Regions from separate parts of the Homo sapiens genome. Here regions 1, 2, 3, 5, 6 and 7 are each reported to be linked to region 4. The links are microRNA targets in miRTarBase. Many come from high-throughput screens and were not tested one by one. Region 4 holds a microRNA gene; each other region holds the end of a gene's coding sequence. Distances are between the middles of the regions.

Evidence for each region. Region 4 holds the annotated microRNA hsa-miR-6811-5p (AUGCAGGCCUGUGUACAGCACU, at 2,704-2,725, shown strand). A microRNA usually pairs through its seed, bases 2 to 8, with sites in the 3' UTR of a target mRNA and lowers its output. Matches are read on the target gene's strand: a 7mer-m8 pairs with bases 2 to 8, a 7mer-A1 pairs with bases 2 to 7 and ends in A, and an 8mer does both.
Region 1: miRTarBase lists SIX6 as a target of hsa-miR-6811-5p. Seed matches in the 3' UTR shown: 7mer-A1 at 341-347.
Region 2: the mRNA of ERG28 is a reported target of hsa-miR-6811-5p. Seed matches in the 3' UTR shown: 7mer-A1 at 777-783.
Region 3: the mRNA of GATA2 is a reported target of hsa-miR-6811-5p. Seed matches in the 3' UTR shown: 7mer-m8 at 807-813.
Region 5: the mRNA of MEIS1 is a reported target of hsa-miR-6811-5p. Seed matches in the 3' UTR shown: 7mer-A1 at 816-822.
Region 6: miRTarBase lists SLC35F5 as a target of hsa-miR-6811-5p. The part of its 3' UTR that is shown has no 7-base or 8-base seed match.
Region 7: miRTarBase lists SNX29 as a target of hsa-miR-6811-5p. Seed matches in the 3' UTR shown: 7mer-A1 at 3,697-3,703.

Annotation. Positions count from the first base shown.
Region 1 is chr14:60,510,995-60,515,071 of GRCh38, forward strand. It overlaps SIX6 (SIX homeobox 6), which reads left to right. Exons shown (of 2, transcript NM_007374.3): 2 at 90-1,856. The coding sequence ends at 258. It also overlaps a transcript of C14orf39 not described here. Among named protein-coding and RNA genes, the nearest start is that of SIX6, 3.9 kb to the left of the region's middle. RefSeq lists enhancers at 20-791, 3,865-4,077.
Region 2 is chr14:75,647,988-75,652,052 of GRCh38, reverse strand. ERG28 (ergosterol biosynthesis 28 homolog) reads left to right here. Exons shown (of 5, transcript NM_007176.4): 4 at 164-282; 5 at 419-2,262. The coding sequence ends at 498. FLVCR2 (FLVCR choline and putative heme transporter 2) reads right to left here. Exons shown (of 10, transcript NM_017791.3): 10 at 3,886-4,065. Among named protein-coding and RNA genes, the nearest start is that of ERG28, 11 kb to the left of the region's middle. RefSeq lists an enhancer at 3,413-3,707.
Region 3 is chr3:128,477,361-128,481,360 of GRCh38, reverse strand. GATA2 (GATA binding protein 2) reads left to right here. Exons shown (of 6, transcript NM_032638.5): 6 at 43-1,934. The coding sequence ends at 342. Among named protein-coding and RNA genes, the nearest start is that of GATA2-AS1, 9.8 kb to the left of the region's middle.
Region 4 is chr2:237,508,229-237,512,305 of GRCh38, forward strand. It overlaps MIR6811 (microRNA 6811), which reads left to right and starts at 2,703; the gene lies at 2,703-2,760. MLPH (melanophilin) reads left to right here. Exons shown (of 16, transcript NM_024101.7): 3 at 2,346-2,567; 4 at 2,761-2,873. RefSeq lists enhancers at 2,173-2,673, 2,674-3,174.
Region 5 is chr2:66,568,641-66,572,717 of GRCh38, reverse strand. It overlaps MEIS1 (Meis homeobox 1), which reads right to left. Exons shown (of 13, transcript NM_002398.3): 11 at 3,962-4,051; 12 at 3,573-3,668; 13 at 1-1,472. The coding sequence ends at 3,610. Among named protein-coding and RNA genes, the nearest start is that of LINC01798, 3.4 kb to the left of the region's middle. RefSeq lists enhancers at 1-1,765, 1,744-3,824.
Region 6 is chr2:113,714,055-113,718,131 of GRCh38, forward strand. It overlaps SLC35F5 (solute carrier family 35 member F5), which reads right to left. Exons shown (of 16, transcript NM_025181.5): 15 at 3,699-3,796; 16 at 1-1,141. The coding sequence ends at 3,721. Among named protein-coding and RNA genes, the nearest start is that of MIR4782, 5.3 kb to the right of the region's middle.
Region 7 is chr16:12,568,094-12,572,170 of GRCh38, forward strand. It overlaps SNX29 (sorting nexin 29), which reads left to right. Exons shown (of 21, transcript NM_032167.5): 21 at 413-4,077. The coding sequence ends at 536. It overlaps SNX29-AS3 (SNX29 antisense RNA 3), which reads right to left. Exons shown (of 4, transcript XR_007064988.1): 2 at 67-206. Among named protein-coding and RNA genes, the nearest start is that of SNX29-AS3, 41 kb to the right of the region's middle.

The DNA of each region.
Region 1 (4,077 bases), not on the chromosome of region 4:
CCGGGCTGGAGGGACGCAGGAGGTGGTGGGGGCGGGCGACGGGCGGCTGTGTTACGAGCTGTGACCCGTGTTCCCTTTCTTCCCCGTAGACTCCAGCAGCAGGTCCTGTCACAGGGTTCCGGGCGGGCACTACGGGCGGAGGGCGACGGCACGCCAGAGGTGCTGGGCGTCGCCACCAGCCCGGCCGCCAGTCTATCCAGCAAGGCGGCCACTTCAGCCATCTCCATCACGTCCAGCGACAGCGAGTGCGACATCTGAGTTGCCCATCCAGGATGCTCAGAAGCAGATTCCAGTGTAAAAACGAGAAAAACAAAATGAAAGAGGGGAAGAAGATGAGAGACCTGCAAATCCAGCGCCACAGAAGCCAGGTGACCAGGGACCCGCGGGCTCGGGTTGCCGTTTCCCGCCCCACCCCGCGGCCGGCCTGGCTTCACTGGCGCCCTTTGGCCGCGACCACGGGAACCAGCGGTGAGGCCTGACCCAGCACCACGTTCTTCTTGCTTTGCTTTTTCCTAAGGATTTTGCTGCAAAGTCTCCTTCGGAACCCGAACTGCAAGCTGAGCGCCTGCCCAGATTCTCCCATGGGTATTTCACGTCGAAAGGACGCTGTTACATATGTATAACTTTCGCTTTAAAGTTTTTTTTTAACAAAACATATATATGCTGTTTATTTACTTATTTAAGAGACCGCCATGGTAGGTTTCTCTGTAGCTTGGGGAACTTGCTGTTTCTAAACATGCAGGCTGGTGGTGATGGGTTCTGTGTGGAGAAGCCAAACAATAAAACAACCTAGTGGGCAACCTTCTTAATTAAGGGAGCTGCTCTCAGATTCCTTTTCTTCTTATTATTATTAATATCATTCCCTTCACCAGGCATGCAGGGACCCTTGAGCAAATGGTCTCCGGAAGGTCTTACCTATATATCTTTTGCCTTCTTTGGTGCTTCCTGGTATATGTTTTAAACAACCTATGGTAGGTCTATAACCACCTCCCACGTCAAATTACACGTATGTGCATATATGTATGTACCTATACAAACATATGTATGTACCTATACAAACATATGTATGTATGCATACACGTGATATATTTAAGGCTAGAAATTGGCAACATGTGAGCGTCCTCTCTAAGGCAAGTCCCCGCATCCCCAGCACAGGTAATTATGGCTTGTCCACTTGACACTCGTTTACATGAAGTGTCAACAGCTTTCAGGAGCAATTTAGGAAGCCAAACTATGGGACTCAATAAGTGAGTCCTATTTTCTAAAAATGCAAAACTATCCTGACTCAGGCTCTGCAGCAAGAAAGGCTTTCTGTCTCCTTCAAGGCCCCCTCCAATACAAAAGCAGCAGGCACCCATGATCATGCTAGAGTGAGCATATACTGCATTTAGGATTGAGCTATTATTAAAATAAGACAAAAGATGATAGAAGAGGTTGTAAATAATTAGACTAACATCTTCTTGCTGCAGAATTTGGTTTTAATCAAATGAATGGTTTTTAACAAGAGGGATACTGAGATGGGGGAAAGGATGTAATCATGTCACATACTGAGGGTAAAACAAGGCTGTAGAAATAACTGGCATTTTAAAAACCTAATCTCCGAATTAAGCATAGAACAAGTCATCAAGGGCCTCATTGTCCTGGTAATGGCCTCGATTAAAACATAAAATATTTTTAGCATTTAATTTTTCCTCGTGCACATGCATGTATGCACCTATACATGAACAAATGCATGCATATACAACGCAAAAACATCTACCATCTTTGCACTAAGAAAATAAATGCTAGCCAGAGTCTCTAATTTTGTTCCTAGTGAAACAGATTGCATATTATAAAATTTGACATTGATCTTTAAATCACTTGAGCTGACTTCCCTCTTTACTGTCCCCATCCCCCAATTACAGCCTTTTCCATTTGCCTTTCTGTCCTTAGAAGATGTTCTTTGGATCAGAAGCCTGCTAACTTCTTTAGGCAGAAGTGCCAAAGTGCAAACCAAACAAAAATAAGTGAAGTCATGGAAGACAAAAAGCAGCCAAACGGCAAGATAGACAATGGAAGCCCAGGACAGAGTAAGGGTTGATTTTTGGTTTCTAAATCGCTTGAATAGATTTGGCTCATTTGGGCTTTATAAATGTTGTCCTTGTGTATGGTGGCCCTTATCCAGAGAATTCTTGAAAATCAAAACTCTCTTGCACAAGAGCTTTACATGGAAGGAGTGGGTAAGTTTTCGTGATAAAACTGGTGTTCTTTCCAAAAGCAAGCAAAAGCCCTCCTGTGGGTCCTGAAAGGCTCCCATTGTAGAGCTTCCTCAGTACTTAATTTTGTTTCCTAGAGCCCCAGGTAGTTCCTAGAATGCTAACGAGGGGCTGGCGAGGACTAGAGTGAGGCCAGGAGGGGACTCACGGTCAAGGTTATGCAAGTGCAGCAAGTGCAAGGCACATGAGATTGAGTGCCTCCTTAAATTTTGCACTCTAAGTGCCTCCTTTGCCTCATCCTAGTCCTTAATCTGACAAGGAGTAGCCACGGATATCCACTCTTGTTCCCCAGCCCCACCCCACCCTTAGCTATGGGGCTGTCCAGAACCAGTGTTTGGAGAAGTTTGTTGGCAAATTTTCTCTTAAGTTTATGCTTCCAAGTCCTAGAGGGATGGGAAATAACTAATTAGTGGAATAATGTAAAAGAATTTGAGATTCTAAAAATCCCACTCCACCCACCCCTTCAAATGATACCTAAAAGCAGAAGAAAATGTCCATTCCGCAGTGTCAAGAAAATAGGGTAACTAAGAAACTAAGCTTTCTCTTTACAAAATAATTTTTAAGTGACAGTTTATTGCTTGGACAAAAAGAGAAGACCAAACAGTGATGGAGCATTTTTAATTCCTGCTTTGACAAAAGCCTTTAAACTACAGCTACCATTTACTTAAATTAACAAGCTGCCTACATTTTAAAGTAGCTATTCTGTTTCAACAATCTGGATATTTATTTATTTAATTTCACTTTAGAATCTTAAGGGGGTGACACATTACTTGTAAGATTTTTTTAAATGTTTATCTGTAATGTGATGGCACCTAATTGCCTCTGTGAATAACCAATTCTTTGGTGACCACATATTGGAAATTAGTCCAGATCTTCACAGAGATTTATTTTATTTTAATCTTTCCAATCTTCCCAAGGACATTTAAAGGGTTTCTTTTTAAGACTTTTTCCATATCAGCTTCATTCTGGTCTTCAGGGTTTTGGGGGGAAAAAAAGTCCAGGTAATGGCAAGGCTGAAGGTTTCTGAATTTGGCAAAATCTCTATATAATGGGTTTCCTTCCTTTCTTTTCCTGCAATTCTTCTGTCACAATTTCCCAAAAAGCAGCTACTCCAGCAGAGTGGAAAGAGCATTTTTATATTAAATATTTCAACGGACCTGACCAATGTGAAGATTTTACCCCAAGCCCCAGGTCAGGCTCTTTTCCGGCTTATAAACATTTCAACCACACTCCAGTTTCACCAAAAAAAACGACGGCCCCTGCTCCCCAAATGCCGCAGTTCCTCTCGCCTCCACTTTAATGACCCACTCCACTTCCACCCGTCACTCCCTCCTTTCCCTTCGCCAGTTTGTTTATAAAAAATCTGGGAGGGAGGGGAGAAGACGATGGGGGTGGGGAGGGCTTGCTCTTTGTTTACATTAAACAAATGACAGGCAAAGAGCTCAAGCAAAGTCTTCCTTGACCTCGTTCCCTCTCCCTAATTTTAACAAAAAGGAAAAAAATATTGTATCCAAAGAGAATGTGAATGGGGCGGGAGGAGAGGAGAAGCAGCTTTTCGCTCTATTCAACGGGGACGCGAGAGCGCGGACGATTTCCGCTCCTTTTGTGAGGCGGAGCCCGGGGGCGGCCGTGAATGGGGGGTCTGTGGAGCGGCCGGCGGGGCTGTCAGGCGGCTCTGCGTAATCAGGGCTAATGACGGCGGCCGGGCGCTCGGCGGGACAATGCGCGGGGCCGCGGGGTTTTGTCGGCCTGAATGGCTAATAGGTTTGCCTGTGAGCTGCGAGGGGGCGGTGTCGGGGAGGAGGCGGCGGCGAGGGGAGAA
Region 2 (4,065 bases), not on the chromosome of region 4:
ATCGTTGTGATCAAATAACCAGCTCTTCCTCAGGAACAAGTGTCCTTTCTTTTAAGTCTTAATGACATCCTGGGTTCTTATTTGTCTGTATGAAGTCTGATACTTTTCCTCTGTTCTGAACAAACAGTAACTTTGGTTCCCATTTCTGTCTGCTTCCTTATAGGCTCTATCACATCACACTCTGGACCTTCCTCCTTGCCCTGGGGCATTTCCTCTCTGAGTTGTTTGTCTATGGAACTGCAGCTCCCACGATTGGCGTCCTGGCACCCCTGATGGTGGCAAGTAAGCATCCAACCACCCTAGACCTCCTACAGGAGCTGTGCCAGCTCTAGAGCTAGTACAGAGGGTGGACACAGGAGAGAGAGAGAAGAAAGGTACCGTATGTATGTTAGTCACTAGTCTTTCCTCTGTATTTAAGGTTTCTCCATCCTGGGTATGCTGGTCGGGCTCCGGTATCTAGAAGTAGAACCAGTATCCAGACAGAAGAAGAGAAACTGAGGCCAGCATTATCACCTCCAGGACTTTCTCGTTTTCCACCTTGGCCATCTTCTTCCTTCGTCGTCTCTCCTCTTTAATTTCTTTTCTATTCCATCATCTGCCCTTTTATTCACTTTTAGCCTCTTTTTTTAATTTTTAAAATTTAAAGATATGCATACTGAAAAGTATATAACATGTACGTACAATTTAAAGAATAATTTTAAAGTGAATACTACGTAACTCCATCCAAGTCAAGAAATTGCCAGCTTCTCGGAAGCCCACTGTGTCTCCTTCCCCTACCTGCAACCTCTTCCAGGCTCCCTTTTCCAGCCTTCCCCTTTTTCCCTTTTATTTTCATGCCTTGATTTGACTTGTGTGGTGGGAACATGTGAACTATGAAACTTAAACCTGCTGCCCACCCAGAGCAGCTGTGACCAAGGGCTGCCTCAAGGGGTTGTCCACGCAGGTTGGGCTCCTCTCTGCTGCTGGACCCAAGACTCTGAACCTTCCAAGGGACAGGCAGTTCTTCTAAGAAGGGCTCCCCTGTGTGTGAGCAAGACCACAGCTCTCCTTCTATCTACAGATGCATGAGGGTTGGAAGAGTCTGGGCTGTTTTTAGACCTTCTGGTCAGCTGTATTTGTGTAACAACTTTTGTAATAAATAGAAAAACCCTCTGCTCTGATCAGTTCTTGTACTTTGACCTCTGCTAAGACAAGAGCATGGCTGCCTCCTCTGAGCCCTAGGAGAATCACAGCTTTATGCCTGATTGAATACACCATAGTGAGTAGGACAGCTCATGACACAGGTCAGCCTGGCTGCCTCCGGCTCCTTACTGTCATTTGCTCATTCCTCTTGTATTCTTGAAGTCAAATCTTCTTTTTTCTCACCTTCAAGAGTCTGCGTTCACAACTAAACACTAAGTGCCCTTTCTTATTTCCTCCTAAAGAAGAAACAGATTCTTGAGAGAGCAGAGACAAAAAAATAGAACTAGGCAGCATAGATGAAACAACTGCATGACATGGGAAGAAGACAACTAAACCCCGAGGAGAATGCACTGGAATGGACAGTTGCTCTTAAACCCTACCCAGAGGGCCTCCCCCAGCTGGACCCTCATACACAGTGTGTGTATCCAAAAGGCCATTGCTATTTCAGCAAATATTTGTTGAGTACTTCTCCATGCCGGACACTTGGGAAAGAGAAATGAACGACACAGGCAATGCCCCTGCCCTGTGGGCCTTATATTATAGTCAAGGTAACAGAATCAACAAGCCAACACAAAAATAAAGAACTTCAAATAGGGATAAGAACTCTAACAAACACAAGGTATTTTGGTCAAGAAGGAATGTGGGGTGGGCAGTGGGGAACGTAACTTAAATTAGATCATCAGAAAGTCCTCCCTGAGGAGATGGGATTTTTTTGTTTTTTAGAGACAGGGTTTCACTCTGTCACCCAGGCTGGAGTGCAGTGGCACAATCACACCTCACTGCAGCCTCAACTTCCTGGGCTCAAGTGATCCTCCTGCATCAGCTTCCCAAGTAGCTGGGACTACAAGTGTGTACCACCACATCCAGCTAACATTTTTGGGGGTGGGAAGAGATGGGGTCTTACTATGTTGTCCAGGCTAAGAGGTGGGATTTGAGCTGAGACTTGAATGCCCAGGAGTTAAATGTCTTAAGATATGGAGCAGGCCGTTAGAAAGGAGGGAGCAGCAACTGGAAGGTAGAATAGTCTTATTCAAGGAATAAGAACTATGTAATCACAGCATGGTGAAGAGTTAGGAAGTGAAAGAAAAGGTCAGAAAAGGAGGCAAGGGGCTTATAAGGGTGTGATAAGAAGCTTGATGTTTACACTTAAATACATTGGGAATTCTCTTATCAGTTAAGTCTCTTTAGGTGAAAGGACAAAACCTACCTTAAACTAGCTTAAACAATAAAGATAGCTGGCTCATATAACTGAAAAATTACAAGATTAGCTTCAGGAAGGGTTTGATCAAGACTCCAGCTCCATTTCTTTACGATTCTTTCAGCACTACCTATGTGTGCTGGCATCCTCAGGCTGACTTCTTTTATGGTACCAAAGTTGGTTGCAGAAATTCCAGGCCTCATATGCCCAGAACACTGTATCTAGAAAAATATCTCAATGGTAAGAACTATCTTTTCTTTACTTGTCAGCTATATTGTTAGGAGGCAGTAAAAAAGCAGTGATGACAGTTAATGTTTGAACACAGATCCACATGAAGACCTTATGAAAGGAGTGAATGAAAACATTGGATGATTTAGGTCCTCTGAGCATGTGTCATGAAAATGTGATGCCCTGGCCGGGTGTGGTGGCTCACGCCTGTAATCCCAGCACTTTTGGGAGGCTGACACGGGCAGATCATGAGGTCAAAAGATCGAGACCATCCTGGCCAACATGGTGAAACCCCGTCTCTACTAAAAGTACAAAAATTAGCTGGGCATGGTGGCGTGTGCCTGTAGTCCCAGCTACTTGGGAGGCTGAGACAGGAGAATTGCTTGAACCAGGAAGGCGGAGGTTGCAGTGAGCCGAGATTGCGCCATTGCACTCCAGCCTGGCGACAGAAAAAGACACCATCTCAAAAAAAAAAAAAAAAAAAAAAGTGATTCCAGATTAGTAAAGGCAGGGACCCAAAGGATCTAAAGAGATGTACAGTTAGAGTATTTAGCAGACACTATGGATATTAGATTTCTTAACAGCCCAGGCTTGGGTCCCTTCCTAGATCATTTAAAATAGAATCATAATATTGTTCCTCCCCAGCTACGAGTTGCTATAAATATGATGCTAGAATACCACAGGCACAGTACAACTCTCTATGGAAAGAATGTACAGAACACAGATGATAGTAGCAGCATATTCAAGTAACACGCACAAGGTGATCACAACTGGGGAGGGATGAGTAACAGGACGTTGGCCAGTTAGGAAGAAAAATGGTAACGCAAGACTGCAGCTGCTGGGACTGAGCCATGGGCCCCAGCCACAGCAAGCTGATGCATGGCTGAGGTAATCAGAGAACAAACATTTCAACCACCCTTTGAGGCAGAGCCAGAAACAACAGTGGACTCTCTCATCAGCAGTCACTCACATTCCAGCGCGTACACAGCATGGAAAGAGGTCAGGGTCGTGCTGGATGTTGAGTTGCAGTCCCTCCATGTAGGCAAACAGTAACCTTTACAGCCTTGTCTTTAAAAAATATCCCTCCCAGATGGTAAGGTCTGGCAACAGTGAGATGCTCCTGTGGAAGACCACAGTTGCTGCTTCTCTAGCCTCACACTCCCCCGCCCCAGCCCAGCCCTTCCCCACACCTAAGACAGGAGCCTCAGGAATGTGTGACAGTCTTGCAGGGACTTCTAAGAGCCATCTCTGCCCCACTGAATGATAAGGCAGACCACTTTCTGAGAAGTTTTTATTGCCTCGAAATGTCAGATCTTACAAATAGAAAACACAAATTATGTTTTTAAAATAAAGCAATAGGTTTGGTAAACATTTTGTTAATACCTTTTGAAGGGTTTATGAGTAAACATCTTTCTCTTTATCAAAAAGTAAAGCACACCCTCACCTCTCTTCCACAC
Region 3 (4,000 bases), not on the chromosome of region 4:
GAGGAAGGAACTGGCCCTCTGAAAACTGGTGGTTGCCTCTAGGTTAACAGGCCACTGACCATGAAGAAGGAAGGGATCCAGACTCGGAACCGGAAGATGTCCAACAAGTCCAAGAAGAGCAAGAAAGGGGCGGAGTGCTTCGAGGAGCTGTCAAAGTGCATGCAGGAGAAGTCATCCCCCTTCAGTGCAGCTGCCCTGGCTGGACACATGGCACCTGTGGGCCACCTCCCGCCCTTCAGCCACTCCGGACACATCCTGCCCACTCCGACGCCCATCCACCCCTCCTCCAGCCTCTCCTTCGGCCACCCCCACCCGTCCAGCATGGTGACCGCCATGGGCTAGGGAACAGATGGACGTCGAGGACCGGGCACTCCCGGGATGGGTGGACCAAACCCTTAGCAGCCCAGCATTTCCCGAAGGCCGACACCACTCCTGCCAGCCCGGCTCGGCCCAGCACCCCCTCTCCTGGAGGGCGCCCAGCAGCCTGCCAGCAGTTACTGTGAATGTTCCCCACCGCTGAGAGGCTGCCTCCGCACCTGACCGCTGCCCAGGTGGGGTTTCCTGCATGGACAGTTGTTTGGAGAACAACAAGGACAACTTTATGTAGAGAAAAGGAGGGGACGGGACAGACGAAGGCAACCATTTTTAGAAGGAAAAAGGATTAGGCAAAAATAATTTATTTTGCTCTTGTTTCTAACAAGGACTTGGAGACTTGGTGGTCTGAGCTGTCCCAAGTCCTCCGGTTCTTCCTCGGGATTGGCGGGTCCACTTGCCAGGGCTCTGGGGGCAGATTTGTGGGGACCTCAGCCTGCACCCTCTTCTCCTCTGGCTTCCCTCTCTGAAATAGCCGAACTCCAGGCTGGGCTGAGCCAAAGCCAGAGTGGCCACGGCCCAGGGAGGGTGAGCTGGTGCCTGCTTTGACGGGCCAGGCCCTGGAGGGCAGAGACAATCACGGGCGGTCCTGCACAGATTCCCAGGCCAGGGCTGGGTCACAGGAAGGAAACAACATTTTCTTGAAAGGGGAAACGTCTCCCAGATCGCTCCCTTGGCTTTGAGGCCGAAGCTGCTGTGACTGTGTCCCCTTACTGAGCGCAAGCCACAGCCTGTCTTGTCAGGTGGACCCTGTAAATACATCCTTTTTCTGCTAACCCTTCAACCCCCTCGCCTCCTACTCTGAGACAAAAGAAAAAATATTAAAAAAATGCATAGGCTTAACTCGCTGATGAGTTAATTGTTTTATTTTTAAACTCTTTTTGGGTCCAGTTGATTGTACGTAGCCACAGGAGCCCTGCTATGAAAGGAATAAAACCTACACACAAGGTTGGAGCTTTGCAATTCTTTTTGGAAAAGAGCTGGGATCCCACAGCCCTAGTATGAAAGCTGGGGGTGGGGAGGGGCCTTTGCTGCCCTTGGTTTCTGGGGGCTGGTTGGCATTTGCTGGCCTGGCAGGGGGTGAAGGCAGGAGTTGGGGGCAGGTCAGGACCAGGACCCAGGGAGAGGCTGTGTCCCTGCTGGGGTCTCAGGTCCAGCTTTACTGTGGCTGTCTGGATCCTTCCCAAGGTACAGCTGTATATAAACGTGTCCCGAGCTTAGATTCTGTATGCGGTGACGGCGGGGTGTGGTGGCCTGTGAGGGGCCCCTGGCCCAGGAGGAGGATTGTGCTGATGTAGTGACCAAGTGCAATATGGGCGGGCAGTCGCTGCAGGGAGCACCACGGCCAGAAGTAACTTATTTTGTACTAGTGTCCGCATAAGAAAAAGAATCGGCAGTATTTTCTGTTTTTATGTTTTATTTGGCTTGTTTTATTTTGGATTAGTGAACTAAGTTATTGTTAATTATGTACAACATTTATATATTGTCTGTAAAAAATGTATGCTATCCTCTTATTCCTTTAAAGTGAGTACTGTTAAGAATAATAAAATACTTTTTGTGAATGCCCCTGGCCTGTCTTGTGGGCTCCCAGGGTGCTGGGTCCCGGGTGTGAATTTGGGCAGCCAGATTGCATTGCTTTTGTCGCCGGGGTGGCTGCGAGGGGAAAGCCCCTGGAATCCAGGATGGGGCCTCTGTTGGGCCTGGGTCTGATTTTGCCACTGACGTCCCGAGGCTCCTCCCCTGAACTGCTCCCATCTGGATTTCCTGTCACTGCACCAGGGGTCCTAGTGAATGGGAAGATACTGGGGAGGTGCAGGGAGGCCGTGGTTTCTCCAGCCTGTGGTCCACCCCTGAGGGCTCAACGAGGCTCCTGCAAACCCCATCTCCATTTGCTTCCTTCCAGGTGCTGAACTTTCTCTCAGCTCTGGTTTCTGAGATATTTGGTCATCAATATTCCTGTTCATTGGCAAACTTGACCAGCAGTGTCTGTGATCACTGATGTCATTGATTGCTGTCATCTTTGATCAGTGATGTTGGTCATCAATGATAGGCACCATGACTGATATTCCAGATCAATGACATGTCTGATCATGAGAGCCTGCCATCAGAGACACCTGATGACTAACAACTGATCACCAATATTTCATCCATGCCTCTGCTTAACCATGAGTTTGATCACTGACACCCACAAAATGTGATCACGAATGTCTCTAGTGACCATCTTTGCTCACCAGTAGTATGCCTGATCATAGTATCTCTTCTCACCAATGTGTTGATCGCCAATGCGCTTTGTCACTAATGTTCTAGGGCATCAATAAGTATGACCACCAATGTAATTGATAAGTGTTTTTTCTGGTGATAGACCAATCACTCACATGTAATCTCCAGCATCTCTGATCACACTGTTTCTTATCACCAGTGTTTCTTTAACAATGTCCTTGGTCAGTTGTTTCTGATCACCATTACTTCTAACTAGCAATGTGCCTGATGACCAATGTCCCTGATCATAGGATCCTCTCCCCATCATATTTCCTATCAATGTAGTCACTGGTGTTTCTGGTTCTCAATACCCCTGATTGCTCAACACTGATCATCAAGATCTCTTATCACCAATGTCTCTGATGCCCAACATCAGTGATTGCTGAATCGTCTTCAAAGTCTCTGCTGACCAATGTTCCCGTTTTCCAAAGTCCCTTATACCTCTGATCACTGACCTCCCTGGTCATTGATATCCCTGGTCATCAGAATACCCAGTCACCAATGTCTCTGATCACCAAATTCTCTAATCATTGATGTCTCTGCTCACTAGTGCCCTTGATCCCTGATGGTCTGCATTTGGTTCTCTTCACCAAGATCTCTGGACCCCATGTCTCCAGTCATTGAATCTGGTCACTAATATCTCGTATACCTTTGGCCACCAAGGACATGGACACCCAATACTTTCCCCACTAATGCTCCCGGTCATTCACAGCCGAAGCCACCCATGCCCCCTGATCAATGATTGATGACATATTTGTTCAATGATAATTCTGGTTGCCAAGACCCCTGAACACTGGCTCCTGATGGCCAGCATGTAACACACCCCTCCCTGACCAGGTTGTGTCTGATGGACATCATCTCTGGCTGACTTCACCGTCCCTAATTAAAAATCACTCTGATTGTATGTCCCTGGTCAGCCATGGCTTCTCTTCACCTTAGTTGTCATCATCTTTGACCACCAGGATCTTTATTCACCAGGGGCCCTGAGGACTGGGTATTTCTGATTGCCACCATCCTTGTTCCTTGACAGCCCTGATGTCCACCTGGTCCAGGAGATTTTCCTTTAACTCTTCCCAATACCAGGCTGCTGACACTGGGAGGTCTCTCGCTTAGAGCTGGGTGGGCCAAAGTACCAGGAAGTTCAGCACCTTGTCCCAGCTGCCCCAGCCCATCAGGATAGACTCTGACCTCCAGACTCTGCCCTGGTGTGCCACTGGTACCCCCTCTTGTCCTTCCCTGTGAAGTTGACACTGAGTACAGAAAGGAGCCAGCCTGGGGCTTGGCAGGGTAGGCACGTGCCTCCTACCTGATGCATAGTGGCCCTAGGTCCCCCTGGCCTCCACCCCCTACAACCCCAGAGCAGGAGGCC
Region 4 (4,077 bases):
AGCCTCCTGAGTAGCAGGGATTACAGGTGTCCACCACTGTGCCTGGCTAATTTTTGTATTTTTAGTAGAGACGGGGTTTCACCATGTTGGCCAGGCTGGTCTTGAACTCCTTACCTCAGGTGATCCACCTTCCTCAGCCTCCCAAAGTGATGGGATTACAGGTGTGAGCCACTGCACCCAGCTCATTTCTTTTTCAATGAAGGATCTAATGACTGTCAGAGCAGTTGGGCCCACTGCCCTGACTCGTGCTAAAGCCTCAGCAGTTTATCCACCATTGTTTTTACACCTTCAGTGCAGGCATCAAAGAGCAAAGAAAAGGCAAATGATGTCTCAGCATTATTACAAAAATAGCTTTGGCCTTGTGACTCACCCCCCTAAAGGATCTTAGGAACCTCCAGAAGAGAGGTCCCTGGACCACACTTTGAAGACCACTCTTCGAAATCATTGGATCTAATATTCCACGGTAGAAATTGTGCCCATTTCCCCCTCCATTGTGAGCTGTGATTTCTCGCCATCTCTGTCTTAACCAGTTCTTCTCCACCTCCACCAGCATAGCCGGTGGTGCTCCCATCTCAGCCTGGTTTCCTCCTGTGTCTCCTCTGTCCCTCTCATTGAGACTGCACGTACTTGCTTATGCCCCATTCAGCACACCAAGCTGACTTGTTTCGAGTCTGTTTCTGATGGTAAGTCACATTCAGGAGGGTCTTTTATTCCTGAAGCTAACTTTAAATTGGAGCCACGTGCCGGGCTCTTGCCTGTTGAGGAGTGACTTCTGGTCAACCCAATTAGCAGAGTGCATGGAGTGCTCTGGCCCCATTCACTCCTCAGGATCGGAAGCTCCGGGTCTTGTTGATACGTCCTGGAGTGGCTGGCAGATGTCATTTGGTCTCCCCAAATGGAGTCTTCTCTGCCCTCCCTTCCTGGTCTCTGGCTATGAAGAAGGGAAGTTATGTTTTAAAGAATCTAAAGCACAGTACAGTTCTCCTTTCCCCTAATTTCAGCCTCTGAAATATATCAGCCTCCAGCTGCTGCCCCAGGACACTTCTGGGCTCTTATTTAAGAGGACTCCTCCAGCCTGGAATGCAGGGCAGTACACATGTCCTTGTCTTTCTTCCTGCTGTGCTGGCCCTCAGGGTACCGTTCTGCCTGGATACAGAAGAAGAGGTTCTCCCTGGGACAGAGGCTAACAAGCCCTGTCCAGCGAAGGGGTGGCCTCCAGGTTTTCTGGTTGGTGCAGAGCTGGCAAGGGTGGAAATGGAGGGAGTGAGGCCCTTCCCATCTGGCTCCAGGGACTTGTGCTCCTCTGTTTGGGACAAAGACTTTACCTTGTCAATGCAGCTTTATCTAAACTGTAGTCTGTGGATGGCGGTATCCCCCTAGATTCCTACAACTGCTTGACCCTTTTTCTCTTGGTTTTTGAAGCTATGACAAGAGCCTGATTTCGTGTCCATCTCAGTGAACATTTTTGTAAATAGTGGAGAGAGGAAAATCGTGAAGTTCAGCCAATTGCACTTGAAACCGGAGGTGGCCTCCCCCTGCCTGGTGGGACTCCTCCACTCTCTTCACCTTTGCTGCACTCTGGGTGTCCGCCTCCAAATCAGTGTGCTTCAGAGTTCTCAGAAGACAATGGCACCTAGTGTCCTTCTTGTTTTTGTCACTAAGAATGGATTAATTTTATCTCATCTGAAACTGAAAATATTACGTTTGGCAGACATTCTCTGAAATCTAGAACAAAAGAAATGTGTTCATTATCATCTAAGGATACACTTTCCAATCAGTTCAACTTGGCAGGTTCACCAGGAAGCTGTGTTATTTAAACTCGGATGGTCTAGGAGAACTGTAGACTTCCGGGTGCTAGATGATTCCTGCTCTGGAAACTCACCGAGCCATTTCAGCTGCGCTCTAGAGGAGCAAACCTGGGGCGTTAGCTCAACTCTTGCCCCCCTGCTGAAGGAGACCAAAACAATGCTTGATCAGGAAACACCATCTGGCTTTGCCCCCAGGATTCTGTGACTGCCCTGGGGAGGGCGCAGTGACCTGCCAACCAAAATTGGTACAATTGTAAACAGCCACAGAAATGCTTAAATGCAATATCATTTCTATGAAATTAACGTGTTTCCATTCCATTCCAGCCACCAAAATTGCCCGTTTGAGCTCAGCCCTCAAAACAAAGATGCCTGTGTGGCTTTGCCCAACGTTGGGTCACTGTTTTCTGCATAGGAGACAGTTACTGTGTGTGTGTATGTGTCTGTGTCTGTGTGTGTGTGTATGTACGTGTACACACTTAAAGCCTGTTGCAAAAACAAGATGCCCAATATATTTCTTGTTTCTGATATTTTCCCAAGGGCGTTGAAGGGCAAGATTAAGAAGGAAAGCTCCAAGAGGGAGCTGCTTTCCGACACTGCCCATCTGAACGAGACCCACTGCGCCCGCTGCCTGCAGCCCTACCAGCTGCTTGTGAATAGCAAAAGGCAGTGCCTGGAATGTGGCCTCTTCACCTGCAAAAGCTGTGGCCGCGTCCACCCGGAGGAGCAGGGCTGGATCTGTGACCCCTGCCATCTGGCCAGGTGAGCCCAGGCCTTGAGGTAAAATGACCTTGATAGTTTCTGGATCTGGCGTGTCCCTTCCATGGGGCTAGCTGAAGAAGGGTGGACGCACACATGCACACACTCGTGTGTGTGTGTGTGTGTGTGTGTGAGATTTATGCAGGCCTGTGTACAGCACTCAGGCAGTGCCATGAGCCTGTGCTTGTCCCTGCAGAGTCGTGAAGATCGGCTCACTGGAGTGGTACTATGAGCATGTGAAAGCCCGCTTCAAGAGGTTCGGAAGTGCCAAGGTCATCCGGTCCCTCCACGGGCGGCTGCAGGGTGGAGGTAAGGAGTGGAGAGTAAGAACGGCTTTTTGTTCCCAGGCATTTTAGGAATATTAAAGCAGGTTCCTTTGGAGTGTGCATGTGTGTGTGTACGTGTGTGTGTGCATGTGTGTGTGCACATGTGTGTGCATGCACATGCCTCTCTGTGAATTCCTGCTTCTGGCTGCTTTTTTTTTTTTTTTTTAATTTTTGTAGAGACAGGCATCTCACCATGTTTCCCAGACTGGCCTCGAACTCCTGGGCTCAAGCAATCCACCCACCTCAGCCTCCCGAAGTGCTGGGGTTATAAGTGTGAGCCACTGTGCCCTGTGAAATTGGCTCCTTTTTATGTGAGGTGCAAACCTCTGCATCCCACTGGCCTGGTCTGAGCACCTCAGAAGTCCTGGGTGCTGCTGAAGTTGCCAATATTTGAAATTATATTGTTTTCAAATCTTCAAAGTAAGTTGAGAACTCAAAGCCAAGTTTCTGAAACCCAGCTGCTGATTGAATCACCAGGGTGCTTGTTAATACTACATGTTTTCCAAGCCCTTCTTCCCTGGGACATCTGGTTTGGGGCCTAGGCTCTCTCTTTTCAACAAACATTTCACATGAATCTGGTGATTATCAAGATTTAGAGAAATCTGTTGTAATTCAGTTGTTTTCATCTTTTGAATCCAAGTATTTATTTCATGATGAATTTGAAATCCAGGCAGTAGGCTTAAACTAAACAATGTGTTCGCCTGTAAGATCCCCCATAAGGCATTTGGAAGAGATCTTTTCAGGGAGAGGGTGGGAGGATGCCGGGGGGTCTTTTGCATTTGAGTTTGAAGGGAGCTAACCCATCAGTGTTTTTGAGAAAGCTCACCTTGTCCCTGTTACCTGGAGTCCAAGGCTTCTGCCACTAAGCCCGGCCAAGCATTCGGGTGGGACAGCCGCCACCAAGCCAGGTGTCTGGGGTCTCAGTGTCCTGGATGACTCCATCTGCAAGACCAAGGCGAGTTTCTCCAGGGCCACGAGGCAGCGCCTGGCTCCGGCAGCTGGGCACGTCCAGGGCAGAGGCTGTGCTTCTGGATTGGGGCGTCCTCACCATGCCCCAGCCCAGGCGTCTCCCCCAGGCCTTCCTTCTGGAGAGACACCTTATTCGTGCCTGTCTCTTAAAGCCTCAAGTTTGATTGAAGAAGCAGAAGTTGGCATAGACACCTTTGAGCATTCAAGCTCTCGCCGGG
Region 5 (4,077 bases), 170 Mb from region 4:
TACTGCACTCAAACGACTACAACTGGGCTTGGCGTTATTATACAATCCAAACTGTTTCCATCAGAAACGCTAAGACTCAGTGTGCAATGATTGTTATTAATAATTAGCTCCTTGGTTTCTTGATAGAAAAAGGCTATCAACAAGCATTTGTTTATCCACAACAAAAAGTATAATTAGCTTATCCCACTTAGTAAATCTTGTATGCATGCCAACTCATACCAAACTGCTACTTTTACAAAAAAAAATTGCAATAATACAGTTCATTTTTCCAGTCCTTTTTGCACAAAATTTATTTACAATGTCTACATAAATGCTCCAAGGTGGGACTATGAAAAAATACACACATGACCGATGCTTTGCTCAGAAATAAAGTCAACATATTAAAAATAAATCTTCAGTCTATGTTTTAGAGCTGCTTAAAACAGGAAGTGATGTATAAGGTGGTGGTTGTTGCATGGGGACAATGATGCTTGATGTGACAATTAGGCTTCTAAACACACGGCCTTTTGGTTTCCATGCCTCCTCCTACCAGTCTCCTTAAGACACTGCCTGCAACAGCTGATTAATCATTGTTGATGACTGCAGTTTTTCCCATCCTTCCCGATTTACATCTGTTCAGGCCAATTCAAATATGGTGAGTAAATGAATTAGACATGCAAATTCAAGCCCCAGGCTAGAAAGAGGGAGAGAGAGGAAAAGAGAGAGAAAGAGAGAGAGCGCGCGCATGGCTGAAATCCTAGGCGAGAAGAAAGATTCTTCTGCCTGATAGTTATTTTAATGCTCTAAAAATCCTGCAAATCAGACCTTCCTGTCCCTTGCAGGATAACTGTAAGGCTTTTTAATGTAAGGAGGCTTCTGGAGGAAGTGAAGAGCTATGGAAACAACACACATAGTGTGGAAAAATTTCACATTTTTTTTAAAAAATCTATAAGAAACAACGTAATATGGATAACAGTATAATAGCATTTACAATATTTCACTCTTTGTTCTCTTAATGTCTTATATAGTTATTTAGCATGTCCCCCAAATTGACTTCAGTTGGTATTTCCTGCTTTTTAAAGGTCCCTATGAAGAATTAGGGATGCTCCTTGGTCCAGAGTAGATGCCAAGAATGGAACTCCACAGTCATTGCAGAAAAAACATGATTTGAAATCAGTCACCATTGCAGACAATGCATATTCCCTTAAGCTACTGAGCATGAATGTCCATGACTTGTCCACTCATTGTTGGGTCTCCTGTATTAAGAACTGTGGGGCTTGATGCTGACATTGGCATTCCAGGGTGGGGCGGTCCTCCATGCATCATCACTGTTGGGTGGTGAGGGTGTCCAGGAATGTACGTATGCATGGGGGGCCCATGACGCAGCTGAGCAGGATGGGGGGGCATCTGGGGTTGGGTATAACTTGGCTGTCCCATACTCACACCCATTGGACCACCCCGGGCTACATACTCCCCTGGCATACTTTGCAGCCCTGTAAGAAATTCAAAAGAAAGAAACAAAAAGAAAATGTTATGAAAAAGCAATAGTGTGGTCCTGGCTATGACAATCCTATAAAAGCCAGAGAACCCTGTGATTAAGGGAACATGGTTTTGTAAAGCATTCTTTTGATTCATACAGAAGAAAATAAAATGAGAAACATCATGCTGGAAACTCACATTTTGCCACTATTTTCCTTTCATTGTCACTGTTATCAGGTCCGCCTACTGAGGTCTTATTTATTAAAAAGAATAAAATTGTTATTTGAGGTCTGGTCTGAAGAAGCACTTTTGTCTCCTGAAATATTCTCTATCAAGAATACAAGAATACACTGAGCTGGTCACCAAACATCTCACAGGCAGCTGAACTACACAGGCTCACTAAGGGTGATTACTTAGCAAAACCTGTACTTAAAAAAAGAAAAAAATCAAAACAGTTATCAATGAATTCTTTCCACATGGTTTCTTAGAGCTGGGGAAAAGAAAATCTTCACAAAACACTGTCCACCTTATAATGATTTTGAGAACAATAAGAAAAATTGGACCTAAAACAATACCCCTCCTGCTTTGAGGGGGCCTCTTGTCTTCTGCATGGATTGCTATAGTTGATGGAAACTGACAGGTGTATTGTTTCTGAGAGCTATAAGCTCCATAATCATCAAGGGTGAAAGGCATAACGCTATTGCTAAGTAGGTTCAATTGGCTTTAGTTCTAAGTAATAGTGCACTGTGAATACGATGAACACCTTCGAATAAGGTCTCCAGGCTCTAACAATGAATGGCTGCTTAATCTAGCCTAAAGGAACATTTTTGAACTAATGAAAATTGCTTATAAAATATACTGTACCCACAGCTCTTTAATCAAAAAAGATGATAATTTTTTTTGTAATAACCTAGTAATTTAATTGGTCACGAAGCATAAAATACATCATTTAAATTTAATTGACCCAGAAACTAAGAAACAATATTTAAATTAACTAAGCTAGAGAATTCCATGATGAGGTAATAAGACTGTTGCATTCCCCAGCTCAATGGAATGTTTTCAGAGCTAATTGTTAAACTTATATTTGACTCACACCCAGAGAAGATGACCAGTACGAATTACCCCTGGCCTCAGCAGTGATTTTAAATAGTGCATAAATATAATCAGAGACACAAGCAAGACTCTGAAATAACTGCTTTTAATTTCAAAAACAAAGCAAGAACAGTGCTATTAGGGGTAATTTAGGAAGTGAACAAGAGCCTTGGTGTTCAAAACAGTTTTACTTGTTTGAACTCGAATTGCTGGAGTGTCTTTATAGGAGAGAAAATGCAAGAGTGAGAATCTGGGACAGTTTTCCTAGGCCCACTTCACTAGGCCTGCCACTGATGATTGCATTAATGATCTCTATTTTTGTATACTGAATAAGTCAAATCCATTTGTCACACTGCAAGTGATGGCATACTTAATTTGGATATAGTCAATTAGCCTGGGCTAAGCCCCGCAGCCTGCTGTGCACACCTCTATTTTGTATTCTCCCTTTTCCCATTGCCACACGTAATCCCATTATGATGGACAGACAAAGGAATAAACTAAGAAAAAAAATCAAAGTTTAGTTGACTGGAGCTCAAAATATGCCTTTACTTACCCTAAGTAAAGCTTGTGTTTATTTTACCTAAAAGAAGTCTCTGTTTAGCTTTTCGGTGTCTTGCAGGTTAGTGTAGAAATGTAACTCATGCATCAACTGCGGTTAGACAGATTTATGACACTTTGGGGACATGCTCTTCCCTCTCCTTGCACTGCTGCAGACTGCTTACATTTTGCAAATCAGTCTGTTGCTATGACAACCCACTCCCCCACCTCCTGACTGCTTCTTGTTTTGTCATGTGGTCAGTACTGTACAATAGCAACACACAGGATAAATGTACATCATACACAGTATTTATAAGCTTAAAAGCTTGATCACAACCAAAAAGAAAATGATGGAAGCAAGAAACCAGGAGTTTAATGGAAAGGAATGAACAAGCATGAAGCTATGGGCAAGGAGAACATAAGAAAATGCAAGAGGAAAAATATTCCTAGGACAAAGTGAAAACAAAGACCCCATTTGTACTTACTTCCCCCTTGCTTTGCGATTGGTTAACTAGATGAAGGTTACATGTAGTGCCACTGCCCCTCCATGCCCATATTCATGCCCATTCCACTCATAGGTCCTAGAAGGGAGATAAAAATCCAAGAAGAGGCCAGAAAATGAGCAAAGTCAACAGATAGTGCCAAAAGACCCTTAAAAAAAAAACAGGATCTAGAGGGTTGAGAAATAGTGAGATCTTCAGTGCATAAAGATCCTGGCTTCCCCTCTGCAATATCTTAGATGCACAGATAGCAGACAAGGCAAGGCAGCCAGCTTGAGATAACAGAAAAGGATGAGGCGGATTTACCTGTGTTGATGAGGGGATGACACTCTTGGAGTCAAAAATGAGGAACTACCACAAAAACAAAGTCTTACCTGGTGCTCTAATTCCCATATGTTGCTGACCGTCCATTACGAAACCTCCCATGGGCTGTCCATCAGGATTATAAGGTGTTCCTTGACTTACTACAAAAGTACAGAATGTGGTTTTT
Region 6 (4,077 bases), 120 Mb from region 4:
TATCTATGGTGAATAGAGTCCAGGAGCAGTTGCATAATAAGTACATGTAAGGCCTAAGTTTAAGAATTGCAATTAGGAGTATTTTACATTTAATTTATAATCTTAGTAGAGGAAAAGTTCTGATGTGATTTTAAAAACAGAATCCCTTCTCGCCTTACTTACTTGGTACTTTAACCATTACAAATTTATTCAGGAAAACTAAAATTATTTAAAGAAGAGACATCTAGTTCTAGAGTAATCTGGCACATTCATATGTGAAAAAAATTAGAAATCACTTGATACATCTACAATACACAAATAGACGTATAAACATTGTATTTTAATAATACTCTTTGTCACTTCAATTTAAATCATTCCATTATGAAAATTTCTTAATTGAAGGGAGACTATTTCTTCAAAACTCTAAATTAAACAGAGCTTTATCAATTAAGTTTACAGCAATATAGCCTTTAGAAATACATATTTCTTCATTTTATAATAATACTTCCCCTTTAAAAATTTGCCATGGTTTGTCACAGATTTAAAATACAAGGCACCTAATGCTATAAAAGAATAATACAGTAAATGTAGTGTAAGTGAACCAGATATTTTCTCAAATACTTATTCTTTTTAAAGTCCCATGAAATTTGCACAAACATGCTTGTTGCATAAATTAAACATTTTTTGTGTGGTTAATTTGCAATATTCTACAAAACCCAAAAATATAATCCACACTTATTACAGGTAGCTTATTTTAGCATTTTACCTGTCAGAAATACTGGTCTATGAACACTTAAGTGATTTCTTGAAAACATTTTCATAATATATTCCAGCATTTAACATGTGAAAATAAAGTCCCAGAACATTAGGATTTATTCCTTGATTAGTTCAAATGATTTCAACAGCTGAATTCCTTGAGATGTGTAAGGCAGGTTGGTCCTTTGGATGGACTGTAGACTGAAACTTCCTATAACTGTAGTGATATGTACACAGCTACATAGCAAAGTGCTTCATTATGAAAATGAAGAAAACAGGTATGAGAAAAATATATTTTAGAGTTTCAAAGAACTCAAACTGTTATTTTTCAGACTAGGCACTGAAACATTTTTTCTACAAAAACTTGCCAGAGATTGTCTCTTCGCTGTATAGTTCCATTATCAAGCTAAAAACAGAAACCACAGAAATGTGATTAGATTATAATTTCACAGTTTTAGTTTTCTATAGTTTACATTTTAAAAAGCAAATTATCTTAAAATTGAAATACCTATTTTCACTGTATACATACTTAATAACTGGATACTCAAATTTGGAGTACTAAGAACTTATGAATGTGACTTCTATAGCAATGTCAAAAGCTGACATCAACACTAAAGACTGTGTATTAGCAGTTAGTTGTACTCCTGGTATATTCCACCATTACTCCTGCAAAGACAAAGTCACCTGCCCAGTCTATTCTACTCTATTGCAATCCATCCTCCCTAGTCTTCACTCTCTCCTTTACACAGCTCTCACTTCTAAAAATACTGAAACCTTGCTGGATATGGGTAGGTTTAAGTGTGAGTACGAGAACAATGCACAGCATACCCAAGAAAAATAATGCATAAATTACAGCATTAAAAAGCTTTCAAGAATACAAAGTCCTCACTTAATGTCATAGGTTCTAGGAAACTGACTTTAGGTCCCCGAATAACATTTTTTCGTTCAGTGTTGTTATGTTATAATGTTGATGCAAAAAAAAAAAGTTTTGCTGTAATTTTGCTTAAAGTCACAGTTTATAAGAACCTACTGATGATGTTAAGTGAGGACTTACTGTAATTGTGTTTACGTTTTTTTAAATTTAAAGATGGCACATAAACATATATTTAGTTCCACTTGTTCTCCAAAACCTCACTAAAAAGGAAACAAAGGGTTAAAAAAATATATTTTTTAACAGAAATAAGGTCTCACTATGTTGCCCAGGCTAGTCTCAAACTCCTGAGCTCAAGTTATCCTCCCTCCTTGGCCTCCCAAAATGCTAGGATTACAGGCATGAGTCACTATGCCCAGCCTGGAATTTTTTTCTTAAAAGGAATAAACCACATGGACAAAAAGAAAAGTAGAGAGATGAGAAAATAACAGCCAACTCTTGGTTAGCAATGGAAAAACAGGACCAGATATCTCTGTAAGGAGGGGTGAAGAAACAACTAAAAACATGAAGACTGGTATAATGTCTATAGAAAAAGCAGACAGACACTCAGATGCCCTCTCTTACTTTTCACAGTTGGCCAAGTGCCTTTTCTCTACCCCAGGAGAAGACTTTAAGGTTTACTCTCCAAAAAGGGTAGTAACAGAGAATCTCTGGATAAGGGAAATACCAGGACGAATCCTACATAGCTCAGTCATAAGTAACAATTTTTTAGTGACAACAATATAAACACTGACTACAGATCTATCCAAAGTTATGCAACAACTACACAGGGATGATGAGGAGGCAGAACTGATATGGAGACAGGAGGCCTATGAGGTGGGAGCAGAGGAGGAGTCAACTTGAAAATAATCTGTCCTCGTTGATCTTAGTGGGAAAGTCAGCTGAAGATGCCTAAAACCGAGAACTCATGAAACACAAGTCATAAGCATGATACTTAGGGAGACAAGAAGGAAAATACCAAAAGAATCAGCTAAGAGTTTAATTTCCTCAGAGTGGGAAGAAAATGAAAGCAGGATGAGCAGGGCAGGGAAGGGCAGGGGTAACTGCCTTGTACAAAAAGTCTTGGAGAACTAGAGCTCAAACCATGTGCAGGTATAAACTAGATTTAAAAACAGCACACTAAAGAAAAACAGAAAACCAGGACCATTAGCTGTAGGTTAGAAGCAAGTTTACCAGGAGGATAATGAAACTTAACCTTCAAGCCTAATATAAGTGTTAACAACTGACAGGAGTTGTACAATGTTCTAGATAGGGAGGGAAAACTCAGTAGCAATCAAGAAACACTTCAATATAAATTGCCTAAAGATGTCTTAGAAAAACTAGAAAAATTCTAGTAGTTTTTTGTGATCTTTCATTCTAAATAATCACTTTTGTACCTGCAAAATCTGTACGTTACATTTAATTCAAGCTTTCATTCAGCAAAATATTAAATGTCATGTACTCTATCATCGAAGACATATAAAAGACACTATTTCTTAAAATGGAAAAAATGGAAAAAAATTCCAGAAGCATTGTTAAATGACAAAGCAATGTCAGAGAATGAGGATAAACACTGTGCCAGTTATGTAAAACAGACACATAAAGACTAGTATTTTCCAACCAGTATATTGTACACCAGAATATTACATTTTTCTTTTATCATCAGAGAAAAAATATTTTTCTAAAGCATATTATTAAATAAAATGACCCTTAGCATGAATAAAAATGAGTTAAAACTTTCTGATCATTTGAGTCAGGCACTATTATACATACTTTATATTTACCAAGTATTTACTATTTTAACACCCTCATAAGGGAGGTTCTACTGTAATCCCATTTCACAAATAAGAAAGCTGGAGCATCAAGAGATTAAGAACCTTGCACAGGGCCACACAGCTAGTATGTGGAGAAGACGGAACTGGAGTCCAGGCTTTAGCCCCTTTAGCCTCTAAGGCTGTATTGCCTCTCAAACAACTAATTATAGAAAATCAATCCTTTGAATATTACACAGATAAGAACCTTATTCAATACTAAACCCAGCTCACATACAAACCTGGGCTACAGACAACAGACAGCTAACTAGCTCCATCCTCCTGAGAAACACTGTGCATAGAAATGAGACTCTCACACTGTTCGCTGTCTTCTGGAACTCTTAAGAAAAAAAAAAGCAGTAATTAAGGAAAGCTTTAGAGCTGAAAAGGAACCTCAAACCTTATTTATTCCATTGCCTGAAGCTATGTGGACAGGATGCAAGTCAGTGGCAGAACCAACACTAGGATAAAATTTCCCAAGAACTTGTCCCAAGTTAGCGTTTTTTGTTTTTGTTTTTTAAATAAGAGATAGGGTCTCACTTTTTGTTTTTTAAATAAGAGATACGGTCTCACTTTTTGTTTTTTAAATAAGAGACAGGGTATCACTTTGTCACCCAGGCT
Region 7 (4,077 bases), not on the chromosome of region 4:
TTTGCTACGCATCTTGTGTGGCTTTATGTAGTGTTCTCCAAAGTTGCCTTGGACTTAGAAGCGTACCTTTGCTGGAAAATCAAGGAAAATGTGGGGAAGAAAGCTGTGCCTAGAACATTCTTTCATAGCCTTAAAATGTAGACCGGAACGGTGGTACCATGAGCTAGCTCAGACTCACAGCCAAGCTTGGTTGGAGCCTCGGAGTGCTGTTAAAAAAAAAAAAATGGAAAGGTTTACGTGACAATAGGGGTTTCTCATTTCTTCAGGTGGCACCAGTTAGAGGCAGATCCAATGAGCCAGTCACAGTTGCCAATCAGATCCCTCCTGCCCTCACACCTGGCTCCCCTTCCTGGCCTGTGGTCATTTGCTTTTCATCCCCAGACTTAACCCGATTCTCTCCCTGCTCTTTCAGCGACATCACCCCGCCCGGAGAGCCTGTGAACAGCCGGCCCAAAGCAGCTTCCCGCTTCCCCAAACTGTCCCGGGGTCAGCCCCGGGAGACCCGCAACGTGGAGCCCCAGAGCGGTGACCTCTGACCTCGACAAAACCGCAGCCACGGGCCCTGTGCGTGGCACCAGCTGCGTCCACCCCAGCCACTGCCGCTGGCCCCTCACCTCAGCGTGACAACCACGTCCACCTGGTGATCCTGAGAGCACACGATTCCCAACAGTTACACAACACCCCGATTAAACTAATCAGTCTTCGAGCCGCATGATACCGTGACCCGAGAGACCAAGGCAGCACCTCGCTGGAGAGACTGGGACACACAGTCCTTCTGCTTCTGGGGTCTACCCTGGGCTGCAAGGGCTGTTCCTCCACCTTTCTGTAGTTCAGGGCTGGCAGGAGGGTGGGCACCAGGTCAGGCTGGGTGCGCCATGGTTGAGAGGCAAAGGTGATCCCCTATATAGGAAGGTTCATGCAGAGCCAGCCTCTCCACTCTTTCCCACGTGGGGACTAGAATGACTATTAGCCTCTCCTTTTGCTTTTTAAGGTTATTACCTGGCCTAACCTAGGGATGGCTGGCTTTGCGGGGGGGGGGGGGGGGGGGGGCATGGTTCCTTTCACTGCATTTTCCACCAACAGTCATTAGACACCTGGCACTGTCACAGCTCACTTTTCCAGAGGGATATTCCTGTGGCTTTGGCAAGGAGCCATTAGTGATGTGCAACTTGAGTTCAGAGAACTTCCCCTACCTCCCCCATGGCTGGCTTCAGGAAGGACCAGTGCCCTCCATAGCCTGAGGCCACCTAGGCCCTCGCCAGGCTTGGAGTGGGGGGACTCAGACATCTGGCCCAGCCATCAGCAGCAACCTAGTAACCCGGCGTCATCCAGCGTGTCCAAAGTAGCATTGGCCCTACAGTCATGAGAGACTTGGGTCAGGGAACCACTGCAGAAGGTTCCAGGGTTTTCAAACCAGGCTCCATGACTATGAAGTTGGACCCAGTGTGGACACTTAACAGATCATGTGTCTCTCCACTAAAAACATTTTCCATCCCGTCTGCCCCCGACATTGTCCTTGATAACAGAACTCTGCATCCCCTAAGACAGAGTCCTCTGTTCCTCCCATGTCAGGTGGCTCTCAGAGTACAGGGACCTTGGCAGGTGGAGAGGAGGATGGGGACCAGCAGCTGGGCAGCCCCCAGGGCTCCTCCTCCAGTGAGCTCACATCAGAGCACCTCACAGAGCAATAGCCGTCCTCAGATGCTCAGCAAAGTTGTGGCAGTTTGCATTTCTAGGGTAAACTAACTAGGAAGGATGTCGTGAAATGGACTATGCAAGAGTAAGTTTGTGTGTTTCGCCTTAATCTGAGGCAGAGACACAGCAGAACCTGAGGAGAAAAGCAGGTGGAAGGTGACGGTTAGATGGTAAGCCATGGGCTTGTCCTGGAACTGCTTCAACTCAGTGGCTTAAAATGAGAACTGCCCAGGTGAGCATGGAGCATCTCCTAGGCTCGAGGACATCTCTGGAGAATCATCTGGAAGGTTTATACTGTGCCTTCCCCTCGTAGCAAAAAGGAAGATTGTTCATGGCCTTTAAGGAAGGCTGAGATCACTCACACACAGCGCCCCCCCACCCCAGAGAAACCGAGTCAGCCTACATGACTTCCAAGGGGACCTGGGGCCAGATAAGCCCTGCCCCGGTGAGACCAAATGAGCTGGAGCATGTATGGAGGTGCGGACCCTGCAGTCAGTTTGCGAGTGTGGAGGACCCGAGACATCCTGTAAAGGCAACTTGGTCTCCCTCCCACTCACCTGCCAACATTGCTGCAATACACATGGTTTATCTGAAATTCCAAGGCCAGAGTGCACATCAGCTCACATGACTGGCAACTCTAAATAGAGAGCCCTAATGGACTGAGGCAGGAAACGTCTAAAAGCTCAATCTGCTGTATGTCATGACCCCTTAGGTTGGGTTTATGCCACATCGGTCATTTTGAAGTAGGTGTTTGATGCCAGCTCAGAGACTGTCTCAGGAGTGCCTCCCTGGCCTGGGTAGCTACCCTGGAGGTCATCTCCCTGTTCTCTGTTGGATAAAGGAACCTCCCCCATCTGTGACATTCCCTTGGGCCCAGGCTTATGACCTGCACCTTTTCTGACACCTGCCCCCAAAGCACAGGATGTGAATTGGTCTCTCTCCAGATACCCCACGAGGAAGCACCTTGGACATTCTGCACATGATAATAATGCAACAGTCCCCCATTGCTGAGAGATACTAACCCGTGAGAAACAAGTATGCTCTCAGCTGGTATTGAACTGGTGGGAGAAACTGCCTCCTACTTTTATAATACTGAATTATTCACAAAAAACCTGGTCTGCTCTCCAAAATGAGAGCATGTTCCTGGGAGCCACATGGGGACCATCCCCAGCTGCCTGCTCCTGGTACCTCCCCCATGATCATGCACAGACCGTAGAGTCGAGTCATCTCGCAGATCCAGACCATCTCCTCTCATTCTCACTCTAAAAATGCTGGTGGCCCGCACATGACAGCAACTCCCCGAAGCCTTCCCTTTGGAATCCCATAGAATGTTCTGCAATGATTGGGTCCATCTTGCTGCTCAGAAGAATCCCGTCCTGCTCTCTAGTGTGGTGGGATGAACTTCAGGCAACAAACAACTGGCAGGGTTCCCAGTTCCTGGAGTTATGGAGCAGAAACACCCAGGCCTAGCAGAATTGTGGCTGAAACCTGGTGCCCAAATTCCACACCCTGGAAATGTGTCAACTGCCTGTCAGCCTGGATTCAATTCTGAGGGCTAAGCCACGACCTTATCCATGAGTGGCGAAGACACCCCTGAGGAAAGGATTGCTTGCACCTCACATCTGTCTTCTTCTAAGATTACTCGGAGATTTTCAAACAACATCTGAGAACAGAAGCCCCCTCCCCTACTCAGAGAGGAACGAGGGTGGCCCACCTCTCAAGGGCCTTGGATTCCTGGGACCACCCTTTGCTGGGAGGAAGAATCCACACCGAATCCTTCTGTCTTCATGGCCTGCTGTGCTGAAACAGAACAGCAGGTTCCATCTTTCACATCTTTTTTTCTCCCCCAGATGAAAGACGACTCAGGAACGGTAGGGCTGGGCAGAGGTGTCTCTCCTTGAGAGACAACAAAAGCTTCTAAGGGAGGGAGCTTAAAGGCTGCTAGAAACCTAGCCCAACCATCCACTCCTGATCTGAGACAGAACCTTCTCCGCCACTCTTCCTGCAATCAGTGTGAAATTCCAGCTTCTTTGATTCCCACTTAGCAGTATGCTCCAATCACGTTGCTGGCAAGGCATTTTAGAGTTTGGAGCTGAGGTTCAAAGCCCCCTGCATTTCTCTACTGGCAGGCCCTGGTGAAGGAAGACACTTTCAGGGAAGAGGCTCTTACAGTCTATGGTGGTAGCCATCTTCACATCCAGTCACCAGTTGCATCTAGGGAGCTGCTGGCTATAAAAGGGATCATCCAGTGGAGTTGTAAACAAGGGAACCATCTTGCAAGATCTAGGAAGAGGAAGGGGAGGGATGTGGACTGGGTCTGATCACAGCCCTTGGCCCTGCTTCATACTTTGGAGCTTATTAAGATCAATTTTGATAACCATG